Linked DNA regions of Homo sapiens: regions 1 and 2 are each reported to be linked to region 3. Evidence: microRNA targets listed by miRTarBase, many of them from high-throughput screens and not tested one by one. Region 3 holds a microRNA gene; each other region holds the end of a gene's coding sequence.

Region 1 (4,127 bases), not on the chromosome of region 3:
GGAACCACAGGTCGCCACATAGACTTGGTCATCAGGAGTGGGCCTGGTGAGGCCAAAGAAGGAGATTTCATCTGTCAAGGTTACTCACACAGGGCAGCTGATTCTGTTTCCTAGGGCCTGTGTCTTAGGCTCTTCCATCTCTCTAACCACTAGAGTCCCTCTGTCCTCAAGTCATCACAGTAAACTCCCATTATGTCTCGGAATTCTCTTTGCCCAAGCACTCAGGCCCTGCCCTGGCAGCTCCAGAGGAATGCCCGGGACCTTTGTGAGCTGAGTGATGGGTCTCCCCATTTGTGGCAGGGGGAATTTGAATGTCTTAGGGAGAGCCCTTCCCCTCCTCTCCTGATATGGGGACTTCTGAGTTCCCTGGGAGAAGTTGAGGGCTGGGGTAGAAGTGGTAGGGAGCTCCGCCTGTCTTCTGGTACCTTGGGCTGTATTTCTATTACCACTGCCAAGTTGTGGAAGAAACAGTACTTATTGGCAAATGAGCATTTATTGAGTGCTTATTATATGCAGAGCAGTTGAAGGAAGGTAGATAGGAGAACGCCATCCAAGAACTGGAAGCAGCCCTTGTCCCCAAAGGGCTTACAGTCTAGCTGGGAGGCATTGTATATATACAACATCACAGCTTAAAGATACAAAACGACATTGAAGCACCATTTGCAGGTGCAAAGTCATTTGGCACAAAGTGGGAGTATGGGACAGCTCAGAACCTTCTCTGTCCCCAGCTTAGGGACCTGGAGGTCTGTCTACCTGTCTCCATGCTGCCCTGCCTCTGTCTGGTTTGGTGTGTGTGATCTCTGTTCTCTGACTGACCGGGTGCTCTTAAAGGGCAGAAACCAGCCCCACATTCTTTGTCCTCTCTACCCTGCTGCCCTCGCCAAGGCTCTCCGTCCACTGCAAGACAGTGGGTTGGGCTGGAAAGGCCCAGCCATGTGTTCTGGCTTCTGCCAGGGCCTCCCAGGAGCCTAGGATTTGTCTCAGTGGAAAAATCATGGGATTTTGTGTAAAAAGGTCTGAGTTCAAGTGTTGGCTCCACCATATACTACCTGTGAGACTTTAGACCAGTCCCTTAGCCTTGGTTTCTGAATCTGTAAAATGGGAAGAACAATATTTGCTCTACCTTTGTCACGGGGTTGGGAGATAATCACAGGGGACGATAAGGGGAAGCTTTGGAAATAGCAAAACCCTTCATGGCTGGGGGCCTTTGTCCTTCCCTAACCTATCTGAAGTTTGAGGAAGATCAGATAAGTCCGTGCATGCAAGGCACCCAGCACAGCAGCTGGTACACAAGAGATGCCAGGAACTGCCAATTTCCCTCCACCCCTGGAGTTCCATCACTTGGAATCCTTTTTTGACCTCTGACTCCAATCTGGGCAATAGAGGCTAGAAATGGTAGGGATTTCACATTTAGTTTTTGGGGAGATGCAATCCAAAAAGTGAAACAGACATAGAGAGAAATTCTTGGCTTCTTCTAGAGGAGTTTGTTGGGGTGAGGTGGGGTGGGGATGAGGTGCCTGAGACACATCCATGCTGGGCTCATAGCTCACTGCCTTGCTGCCTTTGAACCTCTAGAGCAAGGACACTCAGGTGCCAGGAGGACAGCTCTGGAGGTCACTTTGGTTTCTGACTCCACCCTTCTTCTGGTAGTGAGGCCAAGTGGCTGTCACTAGCTATTGGGGGTTTGGGAGAGTCCTCTCCATAGCACATATGGCCCAGGGCAGCCTTTTTTGGACCTCAAAGAGAGCTTTGGTCAAGGAAGACAGGAAAGAGCATAGATGAGAGGGGACACAATTACAGAGATGTTCCTTATACACTGTCTTTCTTGGATGGGAGCAGAAGGGAGAAAGAGGCTAGAGACTTAGTGCCTGGTGCACAGTGGGTGCTTGGTGCAGTGTGAGATAGATACAGACAGAAGTCTTGAAGGCATGGAGGCCACAGAGAGCATGGGGGCGGAGGGGGGTTCAAGGTATGACCCACATGTTACTTATACAGCAGGCTGGAGAGGGAAGGAGAGAATGGATAGGGCTGGGTGGTAGGAGGAAGGAGGTGGGAGAAAAGATAGGGCACACATTCAGGGTAAGAAGAGGTTAAGAGGCTGGGCCAGGATGGGGCCAGCCCCAAACCCATCTCCTTCTGCCTGGATCTTGTGGGCTCCCAGGACTCTCCTTTGCTTTGGCCATCAACGAAAGGAGGTAAGGGATGTTGAGCATCAGACTCCTTCTGCATCCTTCCCCCAGGAAGCAGAAATAATGAAATGATTCTAGTAATGCGTGATAATGGTATTAAGAATTACAGTTTACACAGCATCTTTACATGCGTCATCTCACTTAATCCCAGTTAATCTCTTTTGAGAGCAGTAGTACTGGCCTAGAAATTTAGAAGCCTGGGTTCTAGACTCAGATCTGCCTCTGCCTGGAGAAGTCATTTCCCTTCTCTGGTCCTGAGAGCAGCAGGCTGCTCTATCCACAATGACTGTCCAGTGGTAGGAGCCAGAAGCAGGGGATCACGGGCTGTGGAGAGGCAGACAGAGAAGGAACAGAGATTCCTGGGGTGGAAAAGCTGCTGCCTGAGGACTGGGGAGAGTGAGATGGGTGATGGATGGGTATTGCCTGGTGCCCATGGTTGCATGCCTGAGCGCCTTGCCCAGCCAGCCATAGGTGTGTGCTGGGCAAGAGGGCTCACTTGTGAAACTGAGTGTCTCCTTTCAAGAAGTGTCTAGGTGCAAATCTCCCCTCACCCAAGACAAAGGCCCGGGTCCCACAAAGGGCTTTTGTTTTCTGCGCCGAAGTGGGAGGCTAATCTCTGGGTCTGGGGCACCCCTGGAGACGGGGGTCCCGGGCACACACAGCATACACACACGTGAAGGCGTGCGCACTCATATGCCTGCTTCCTCTTTGGAGAGGTTCTCCCTCACCACAGAAAGGAAATCTTTGGCCACCAAAGATTTCCTTTTTCCAGAGGCCATGTCTAGGGGAGCTGTTCTCTGGTTGACACCTCTCTACCTCCAGCAATGAGTCTTGGCAAGCCTTGGGGCCCAGCGCTGCAGGTGGGGGAAATTTTCCAGGAGGAGCCAGATTGCGGCTGGAAATCAAGGCCCTCCCTTCAGCCCTCTCAAAGTGGCCTCCTTCCCTTCCCCTTCTCCTGAGGAGGACTGGCACCCACACTCATCCACTGCAGGAGAAGCGGATTTATTGCAGGTTGGGGAGGAAGGGGTGCAAGGGGAAGTGAGAAGTCCCCAGCCATGCACACTTGCACCAACGTAGGCAAACCTGTTCACACTCAGGGGCATGCACAACTCTGCATGTGAGGACAAAAGAGAACTTGGGGATGAACACACTTGCACACTAGTAAAACCAGTTGCATCATTCCCGGAACCCCCAAGGCAGGGGTCTGTACACTCCCCACTCAGTACCTGGGTGCAGGCTCTCCAGAGTTTCCCTCTTACCACCCACCTGCCTCCCTCCCCAGCTCAGTCCCCTAAGTTCCCAGTTCCCTGAAAAAGGCTGGAGAAGCCACCACTAGCTGCTCACAGCCTCAGGGCAGGGGACCTGCCAGGCTCAGGGCTCCCTCCGGCAGCCTCCTCCCCGCCTGCTCACAGCACTGGCCTGGGCGCGCACGTCCAGGAAGCAGCTACTCTGCGCTGGGGGGCCAACTTCAGACCTGCGGGAGAGGAGGGACGGGGTGGGCCCTTCTGCCTCGGGCCTCACAAGCGTCCGTCGGGGCCGTAGAGGCCGCTGGCGGCCCTCAGGCCTTGGTACCCCGTGGCAGGCTCTGCGGCGAGTGCAGCTCCACCGACTGCCGCCGTCGCACCTCGCGCTCCTCCCAATCGGTGTCCGGCTCCAGGCCCTTCAGCACTGCCAGGCGCTCCGACAGGCTCTTGGCTGGCGGAAACAGCACGTAGTTGTAGAGGAGGGAGCCCAGGATGGCGCCCACCAGGGGTCCGATCCAGAAGACCTGGGGGCGAGCGGAGAGGGCGGCTTGGCACCCGCGCCGGCACCGGCACGCGGAGCCCGCAGGCCCCGGCGGCACACTCTGCGGCCGCACCTCTCCTCCCCGACATTAATCTAGTAAAATGCTTATTTATGTAATTACAACGACAACGCCAGCTGCTGGGGAAGCCTTGT
Region 2 (4,127 bases), not on the chromosome of region 3:
TACAGTTTAAATATATTTTGTCTTTATTTTTGCAAGGTGCTCTTTTTCCAAGGGACTCTTAGGCAGGGGAAGAATGCACTTACATAATCTGCTTGTCCCCCACATATATTGACGTACTTTTAAATTAAGTAACTTTATTGGCCTGCTTGAGCCACTAGAATATGACAGAATCATGATCAGCATTGCCGTAGTTGTATTTAGCTTGTAGTCCAATATAAAGATAACCACAATAATAATTTTAGTAATGATACCAACATGTGTTGACCATTATATGCCAGCCACTTTGACATGTATTATCTCATTTAATCCTCACAGCTTTACTAGGTAGGTACCATAAAGATCCAGTATTACAGAGGAAGGAATTTTAACCCAGAGGTTAACTTACTTGCCCCAAACCACCCAGTTACTATCATTCCTGAACAGCATGTTCTTCTTTCTACTTCACAGGCATTTATATTCCAGAGGATGACAAAGATGCCCCAGAGAAGTTTCGGGGTCTTGGTGTACGAATTGAGGATGATGTAGTGGTGACTCAGGACTCACCTCTCATCCTTTCTGCAGACTGTCCCAAAGAGATGAATGACATTGAACAGATATGCAGCCAGGCTTCTTGACCTTCACTGCGGCCCACATGCACCTCAGGTTCAAAATGGGTGTCTTCTGGCAGCCCTGCACGTGTGCTTTCTGAGTGTCTCTGTGTGTGCATTAATATATGCATTCCATTTGGGAGCATAGCAGCTGTGTGAATGTATGTAATTGTGTGTGGGGGGTTTTTTGTTTTAAGTAGTTAGAAGTCTGGGAAAATGAATTTTTGAATAGTATGTTACTGCAGCTTTGGTAACATTAATTCTATAGAATTAATGATCAGAGCAAGTTTAATTTTTAAACATAAAGGTCTTGGTTACACATGTCCATGCATTCCAGTTAACACATTTAAACATATAGAAAATTCACTTCTTCTTTCAAGTCCTTCCCTTTCTATACTTTTGCTGAGATCAACCCAATATCATAAGAAGTTTGTGTGATGCCTGTATTTTTAGCTAATTACCAAGGTCTCTGCCTATGCAAAAATTCATCTTTCGGTGATTGTGGGCGGCCAATACATACCTTCTGTAACTCCTCCCTACCTATTCTAGATCCTGCATATCTACTGGAGCCATATGAGCCCTCAGGGGCACTGGTGTCCTGCAGTCTTACTAGTCAGCCACAGTCCAGGTTCCAGCAACACTAGCTACCTACCAAACAAAACACTTCTGAGCTTTTCTTGCCATTTGGTTGCCTGGGACCTGGAAAGTGTTTAGATTCTTGATAAAGATGGAAATGGAAGAGAAAGAAAATTATATATGTATATACTAAAGATCCAGACATCAGGGCTGGGCACAGCGGTTCCGCCTGTAATCCCAGCACTTTGGGAGGTCCAGGCAGGTGGATCTCTTGAGACCAGGAGGTCAAGACCAGCCTGGCCAACGTGGTGAAACACTGTCTCTACTAAAAATACAAAAATGAGCTGGGTGTGATGATACATGCCTGTAATCCTGGCTACTTGGGAGGCTGAGGCATGAGAATTGCTTGAACCTGGGAGGTGGAGGTTGCAGTGAGCTGAGCTCATGCGACTGCACTCCAGCCTGGGTGACTGAGCAAGACTCTGCCTCAAAAAAACAAATAAATAAATAAAATCCTGACATCCTGCCATCTTTTCTCTTCAATTTAAAGTTGATTTCTTAATGATGACTTCAAAAATTAATAAAAAGAAAAGAAAAAAATGATTTCTGGCCGGGCGTGGTGGCTCAAGCCTGTAATCCCAGCACTTTGGGAGGCCGAGGTGGGCGGATCACGAGGTCAGGAGATTGAGACCTCCTGGCTAACACGGTGAAACCCCGTCTTTACTAAAAATACAAAAAAAATTAGCTGGGCGTGGTGGCGGATGCCTGTAGTCCCAGCTACTCAGGAGGCTGAGGCAGGAGAATGGCGTGAACCCAGAAGGCAGAGCTTGCAGTGAGCCAAGATCGCGCCACTGCACTCCAGCCTGGGTGACAGAGCGAGACTCCGTCTCAAAAAAAAAAAAAAAAAAGAAAAAAAAAAGAAAGATTTCTTTCGCAGATATCCCTGCTCCCTCTATAGATTCTTAATGCACTGACCCTCACAGGTTACCCTTTTAGCTGTTGTGCTGCGCAGGAGCAGATCCTCTACTTACGTACCCTGTCAGAGTCACAGTAGTAGCGCCCAGTTTTCAGAGAAGTACCCCTGTTATCATTCTGTGATTTCCTCTAGTGCTAATAGAAACAAAATATGGAATCTACCAAGTACCCGTAAATATCCTATGATTCTTATCTTTCTTTGATACTAGCACTGGGAGTGCAGTGGTAAAGAGTCATACTTCTTTTTTTTTTTTTTTTTTGGAGACAGAGTCTCGCTCTGTCGCCTGGGCTGGATGGAGTGCAGTGGCGTAATCTCAGCTCACTACAACCTCCACCACCTGGGTTCAGGCAATTCTCCTGCCTCAGCCTCCCAAGTAACTGGGACTACAGGTGCACGCTGCCATGCCCAGCTAATTTTTTGTATTTTAGTAGAGACAGGGTTTCACCCTGTTGCCCAGGCCGGTCTCAAACTCCTGAGCTCCGGCAATCCGCCCACCTCAGCCTCCCAAAGTGCTAGGATTACAGGCATGAGCCACTGCGCCCGGTGTAAGAGTCATATTTTTTTAAACACAAACATTGGATACAATTATACAGCAACTCAGTTTGCAAGATGAACAGGGCTAGATTACCACAGATAGCTTATTTAGGAGCGTCTGTGATAGAGGGAAGCTTTAAGAACCAGTGTGTTCACCTCCTTTAAACCTGGATATGAGGTCAAGATGTATAAAACATGCCAATTGTTAGAACACAAATTTGAGGGTTTCTTAAAAAAACAATTTGTATTAGGGAAGCACAAGCTAGGGGATTAACAATCTCTGTAATGCTGGAAGTTTGCCTATCTTATCAGGGAAACCCAGGGTACAGAGTGAAAAGCAGACAGGCAGTGACTTCCTCAAGAGACAGATAATGTGAAAACAAAAGTGATACAAATCATATCCTGACAGTGCTAGCCTAGGAATGCCTGGCTTTGCGCACCTTATCTAAGCAGCTCTCAGAATGGAGGCTGCACAGCTGGAGTCTCCATCCCCCATACCCACCTTCCCACCTCCCTCCAATTTCTCAATCCAGAGCTTTTTAAAAAAAGGGGAGGGAAATAACTCCACAGCTCTGGCTGCTCACTTCCCAGGCTCTGTGCCCCCAACAGCCCTTTCCTTGGATTGTGTTTCCTTTGTTCATTTGTAATCCAGGAATAAGGAATTTCCTTTTCTTCTTGTATCATTTTCTTTTCTTTTCTTTTTTTTTTTTTTTTTGAGACGGAGTCTCACACTGTCACCGGGGCTGGTGTGCAATAGCGAGACCTCAGCTCCCTGCAACCTCCATCTCCCAGGTTCAAGCGATTCTCCTGCCTCAGCCTCCCGAATAGCTAGGAATACAGGCGCCTGCCACCACACCCGGCTATTTTTTTGTATTTTAAATAGAGACGAGGTTTCACTGTGTTGGCCAGGCTGGTCTCGAACTCCTGACCTCATGATCTGCCCGCCTCGGCCTCCCTAAGTGCTGCGATTACAGACGTGAGCCACCGCACCTCCTGTATCATTTTCTATGGTCTAAACTTTTCTAGCTAAAAGCCTAGGTAGCTTGTATGTATAGCAGCATACTTGGACATGAAACACACTTCTGGTTAGATTCCAGTCAAGTTCTATAGGTGTTATTGGTAGGCAGAAAGGCTGTTGTAGAATTCTTCTGGTGATTTTCAGTCCCTGACCCAGGTATATTGTCCTTTGAGTCCCAGATTAACTAACTATAGCAGCTAAGCATTTGAATCAGACTTCTCATAGCAATGTTATGGGCTGTCTGATATATTCAGGATTTGTTGAGCAGATAAGCTGTGTGTGATCTTACTCATTCTCAGCCATGCCGCAGACATACCCATTTCCCTTTAGTAATTTTTTAATACAGAGAATGCTATTAACTGTTACTGGATATCAAATAATTTTATTTTTCTAATAGTATTTTCCAAATATTTCTTAAAATTCTTAAAATTTAGGT
Region 3 (4,127 bases):
GAATTACAGGCGTGAGCCACCGCACCCGGCCCTGAGACATGGCTTCTGTTTATGAGTCCCTGTTAAGTGTTTCCTTCTGAGAAACTGGATCTGTTAGCTTCTTTCCCTCAGCCTTTGGGGGTAGGTTTGCATAGACCTGCTCACCGCAGGCACTGCTGTTTGTGAGTCTGCAGTAGGTGCTCCAGAAATTCTCACTGTGTGCGTGAAGGCTGGGGAAGGGAGGAAGGGCATGGGACGTGGACAGAAAGGCTCAGGGACCCTGGGGGCTCAGCATGAGGCTGACCTGGACAAGGGTAGGCATAGGCCCTGGGGAAGCCACCAGAACAGAGGGGCCGGGCTGCAGCCTCACCTGACGATGTCCACCAGCGCGGTGAGGAAGGGCTTCACTTCGTAGCTGAGGCCGTGCTTGGCACACAGCGACTTGACCAGCGGGGCCACCCGGCTGTAGTTGTGTCTCGGCATCCTGGGGAAGAGGCTGGGGGTGGGGAGCGTATGCTGGCACCTGAAGTGGGAGATTCCAGAGAGAGGCCCCACCCACGGGTCCCCTCCCAGGATCCCCTCCCAGGACCCCCTCCCCACCTCCCACTGGCCCCCAGCACCCACACTCACTGGTGCTCGATCTGGAAGTTGAGGTGCCCGCTGAACCAGTTGGTGAAAAGTGAGGGCTCCACGTTGCAGGTGGCTGCCAGCTGCCGGAAGCCGGCGGGGCACATGTGAGGAGGCCGTTGCAGATCCCTGACCCCACGGCACCATCCCCCACCTGGCAGCCCCGTCAGGGCCTCATCCCTGCTTTGCCATCTGGCTCCTAGCTGGGACCCCCCACCCCACCCAGGATGGGCCCCACCCCTGCTGCCCACCTGAGAGCTGACCCAGTCCCGGTGCTTCTCGTGGCCGATCTCCTTGGGGATGTGGTTCATCTGTGTGATCCACACGAACCAGTGGCTTTCCAGGACCCTGTGGGGAGGCTCGGGCACTGCCCTAGGTCCAGCTCACCACTTAGGCACCCTGAGTGGAGGCTGGAGAGCAGCTGTCCCCAAGTGGCCTTGACTTCCTTATCTGTACAATAGGATTGTGGCCATCGCCCCCTTGCCAGTGTTTAAAGAATCTGAATGGAGCAGTGTCCACTGTGAGGCTGAGTCCAGAGCAGCTCCGACACCCACCGGGCCACTTACAAGCCAGGCCACGCTCCCTAAACCCACCGACCCTGGGCTCCTGCCACGCTTGTGTTTATGTGATTCCACCAGCAAGCCAGGGAGGCAGTACCACTGGCCCCATTCTGCAGACGGGAAAAGGGAAGCTCTGGTGGGGGGCTGCAGTGGGGGTCACCTGTCGCCTGTGTGTGACCTCGCCACTCCCTGCCATACCTGACAGCAACAAAGAAGAGCAGCACCCCAGGGACGCCGTAGAAGGGGAGGTAGGATAAGAAGAAGCGGGCATAGAAGCTGGCGGCCCAGAGCAAATCCTGCAGAGGAGGGCAGAGGCGATACCGAGAGGTCTCCAGGTGCCCGGAGGTCTGGAGGCCTGGTGGGTGGGAGGAGGACCTCAGGCATCCAACCCTTCTGCCTGATTTGCCTCAGAGCCCAGGACAGGCCACCACCCTCTCTGGTTTTCTCAGCTGAGTAAAGGAACAGGGTCCTTGCCCTGCCAGCTCACGAGGCTGATTTTAGTGACGAAGGTGTCATGCAGGGTGTGTTGGGGAAGACCCTGCCAGGGACACAGATGCCTGGCAGAGTCAGCCCAGCAACTCCTCCTGGGAAGACACCCTCACCGAGAGAGACCCACACCCCCCCTGTTCCTCAACCCCCCCCCACCACACGTACAGTCACGGGCACACTCGCTCTCCTGCTGCGCGCACACATGTGAGCCACACTGTTGCACGCATACATGTGAGCCACACTGTTGCACGCACATGTGCACCCTGTTTGCCTTCATGGGCAGGTACTGTCCCCCGAGGCACCACCTCCTGCCACGGCAGCCGTATGCCCGGGGTCCTGGGCAACCCCACTCACCGCCCACTGCATGCACACCAGCATGTACGCCAGATTTTCCACTTCAAAGTTCACCAGGGTGAGCAGCGGCGGGCCGACTGCAAGAAGGGGCATGAGAGTGTTCAGGAGTGGGGCTGGGCTGCCAAGGTGAGTGGGCGCCAGAGTGAGGGGCTCTGTTACTCCAGGAATGCCCCTGGGACGTTGGTGCTGGTCACATCCAGCTGAATGACCCCATATCACCCCCAATTCTGTGTCCAAGCCTCCCCAGGCTGCCCTTACCCCACCACCTCCCACCACCCTTCACCGCAAGTCAGGGCCAGACTTGAGTCCTCACTCTGTCCGCCCCAACAACTGCCCAAAGACTCTAGGGCTCCGGACCACTCTAGTGAGGGCAAGAAGAAATTCTACGTGGGGCTTGGGGAAGCTCCCAGCAGGGCTGTGATGGCCCGTGGCTGCAAGGTGTCCCAGGCACGGGAGACAGCTGGGGCAAAGGCATGCTGCTGGGAGAGTGTGTACAGACTGCAGAGGCTGGGAGGATGCCATGACCAGGGAGACCTGACAGACGTGCCCCGCCCCAGGAAGTGGCTGGGAGTGGTCCAGGACAGCAGGGAGGACAGTGCAGGCCCAGGCACTCCCCCACCCCAGAAGGACAGATGGACACTCACTCAGGAAGAAGTACAGGTGCTGCTGGTTGTAGGGTAGGTATCTGCGTTTCTTCTTGCCATACTGTGGAGACAGGCGGCGGCTGGAGACAGCAGCTCTCCAGGCCACCTCCTTCTCCCGGGCAAGGTCACGGGGCTGGCTGGGGCCAAGGGTCAAAGGCAACTCTAGATTCTAGCAAGCGGGCTGGTCGTCCCCAGCAGGTTGGGAGGTGGGAAGGAAAGACACGGGGGCAGAGCTTGGCCCAGCCAGAGTGGAGGCCAGATCAGGGGCTAGGTCAGGGGCAGAGTGGGGACCCAGTGCATTAGCTCCCCCTCAGCTGCAGGCCCAGCCAGAGGTTGTCCACGTCCCTCCCCACCCACCTCGACGGATGACTCCCCCAGGAGGAAGACGGGCGCCACCGTCACGTCTGGGTCTTTGTGGAAGATGTTGGGCTTGGCGTGGTGCTGGAAGTGGCGGAAGTTCCACCAGTGGGCGGAGAAGCCCTGTGGAGGAGGAGGGGGCTCTCAGGGCAGGCTGTGCCCCCGACTGTGCCCACACACTTGGGCAGACCCAGCGCCACCCAGCACCTGGCTGACCACCCACCCCACCCTCACCTTTAGCTGCCCCATCACGAACTTCTGGGCCACGTGGTTCCACCAGGACTTCTTGAAGATGGAGGCATGGCCCAGGTCATGCTGCAGACACCAGGACTGAGCCTGGGGAGAGAGGCAGGGTCAGAAGCTGTTGGGAAGGACGGAGCCCGCCAGGGCCTGGGGCCCCAGTGAATCCTTTCAGCTTGCAGGGTACCCCCGTGCTAATGCTCCATTTCAAGACCCTTGTGGGCCAGTGTCCTCTTTTTACAGATGAGAACTGAGTCCCAGGGAGGTGGAGGGGCTCGTAAGTGTCATGAAGCTGCAGGGCAGCAGCCTCTGGCTCAGTGGCCCTGTGCTTGATCGGAATCTGTTCAAGAAGGAACTTCTTGGCTCATCTGGAATGCAGCTTGACCCACAGACATGCCTGATGGGCCTTCAGACTGTTCACTCATTCATCTGTTTATTCATCCATTCATCCTTTCATAGGTCCATTCATTCATTTAGCAAATATGTTCACAATGCCCAGATGCATGGGGGCCCACGTCTGTTGGGCAGTTAAGGTGGCTGCAACACAGAACTGGGGTCACCTGAGAGATGGCCAGGATGAAGGCGGCCAGGGCACTGGGCACCCAGCCAGGACCCAGGAGGTAGATAAGGAGCCAGGCCAGCACCTCCATGGCCAGGATGTGGCCCAGTAGGAAAGCAAAGAAGGTGGGACTGGCATCAAACAGCTTCATGTCCTCGGCTGCCTGGTGCAGGGCTCGGAAGTCCTCGACCAGCTGCGCCTGCCATAGCAGAGGGGCCGATCAGCCAAGGAAGAAATTCCTCCCCACCCCCATTCTCCTGGAGCCCCAGCCGCTCCTCCCATCGCCAGGCCCAAGGGGTGTGGGCAAAGAGGAATGAA

The links. The annotated mature microRNA hsa-miR-6746-5p reads CCGGGAGAAGGAGGUGGCCUGG and lies in region 3 at 2,751-2,772, opposite strand. An mRNA with a match to its seed (bases 2 to 7 or 8) in the 3' UTR can be bound and repressed. Matches are read on the target gene's strand: a 7mer-m8 pairs with bases 2 to 8, a 7mer-A1 pairs with bases 2 to 7 and ends in A, and an 8mer does both.
Region 1: miRTarBase lists AQP2 as a target of hsa-miR-6746-5p. Seed matches in the 3' UTR shown: 7mer-m8 at 3,667-3,673.
Region 2: miRTarBase lists XPNPEP3 as a target of hsa-miR-6746-5p. Seed matches in the 3' UTR shown: 7mer-A1 at 3,491-3,497.

The regions. Positions count from the first base shown.
Region 1 is chr12:49,955,229-49,959,355 of GRCh38, reverse strand. AQP2 (aquaporin 2) reads right to left here. Exons shown (of 4, transcript NM_000486.6): 4 at 478-3,957. The coding sequence ends at 3,748. All of the region lies in intron 1 of AQP5-AS1 (AQP5 and AQP2 antisense RNA 2), which reads left to right. Among named protein-coding and RNA genes, the nearest start is that of AQP5, 4.6 kb to the left of the region's middle.
Region 2 is chr22:40,925,822-40,929,948 of GRCh38, forward strand. It overlaps XPNPEP3 (X-prolyl aminopeptidase 3), which reads left to right. Exons shown (of 10, transcript NM_022098.4): 10 at 448-4,127. The coding sequence ends at 614. Among named protein-coding and RNA genes, the nearest start is that of RBX1, 23 kb to the right of the region's middle.
Region 3 is chr11:61,875,502-61,879,628 of GRCh38, forward strand. MIR6746 (microRNA 6746) reads right to left here and starts at 2,777; the gene lies at 2,715-2,777. FADS3 (fatty acid desaturase 3) reads right to left here. Exons shown (of 12, transcript NM_021727.5): 3 at 3,811-4,008; 4 at 3,245-3,346; 5 at 3,011-3,133; 6 at 2,654-2,714; 7 at 2,010-2,086; 8 at 1,365-1,462; 9 at 858-954; 10 at 610-689; 11 at 350-475. RefSeq lists an enhancer at 3,666-4,127.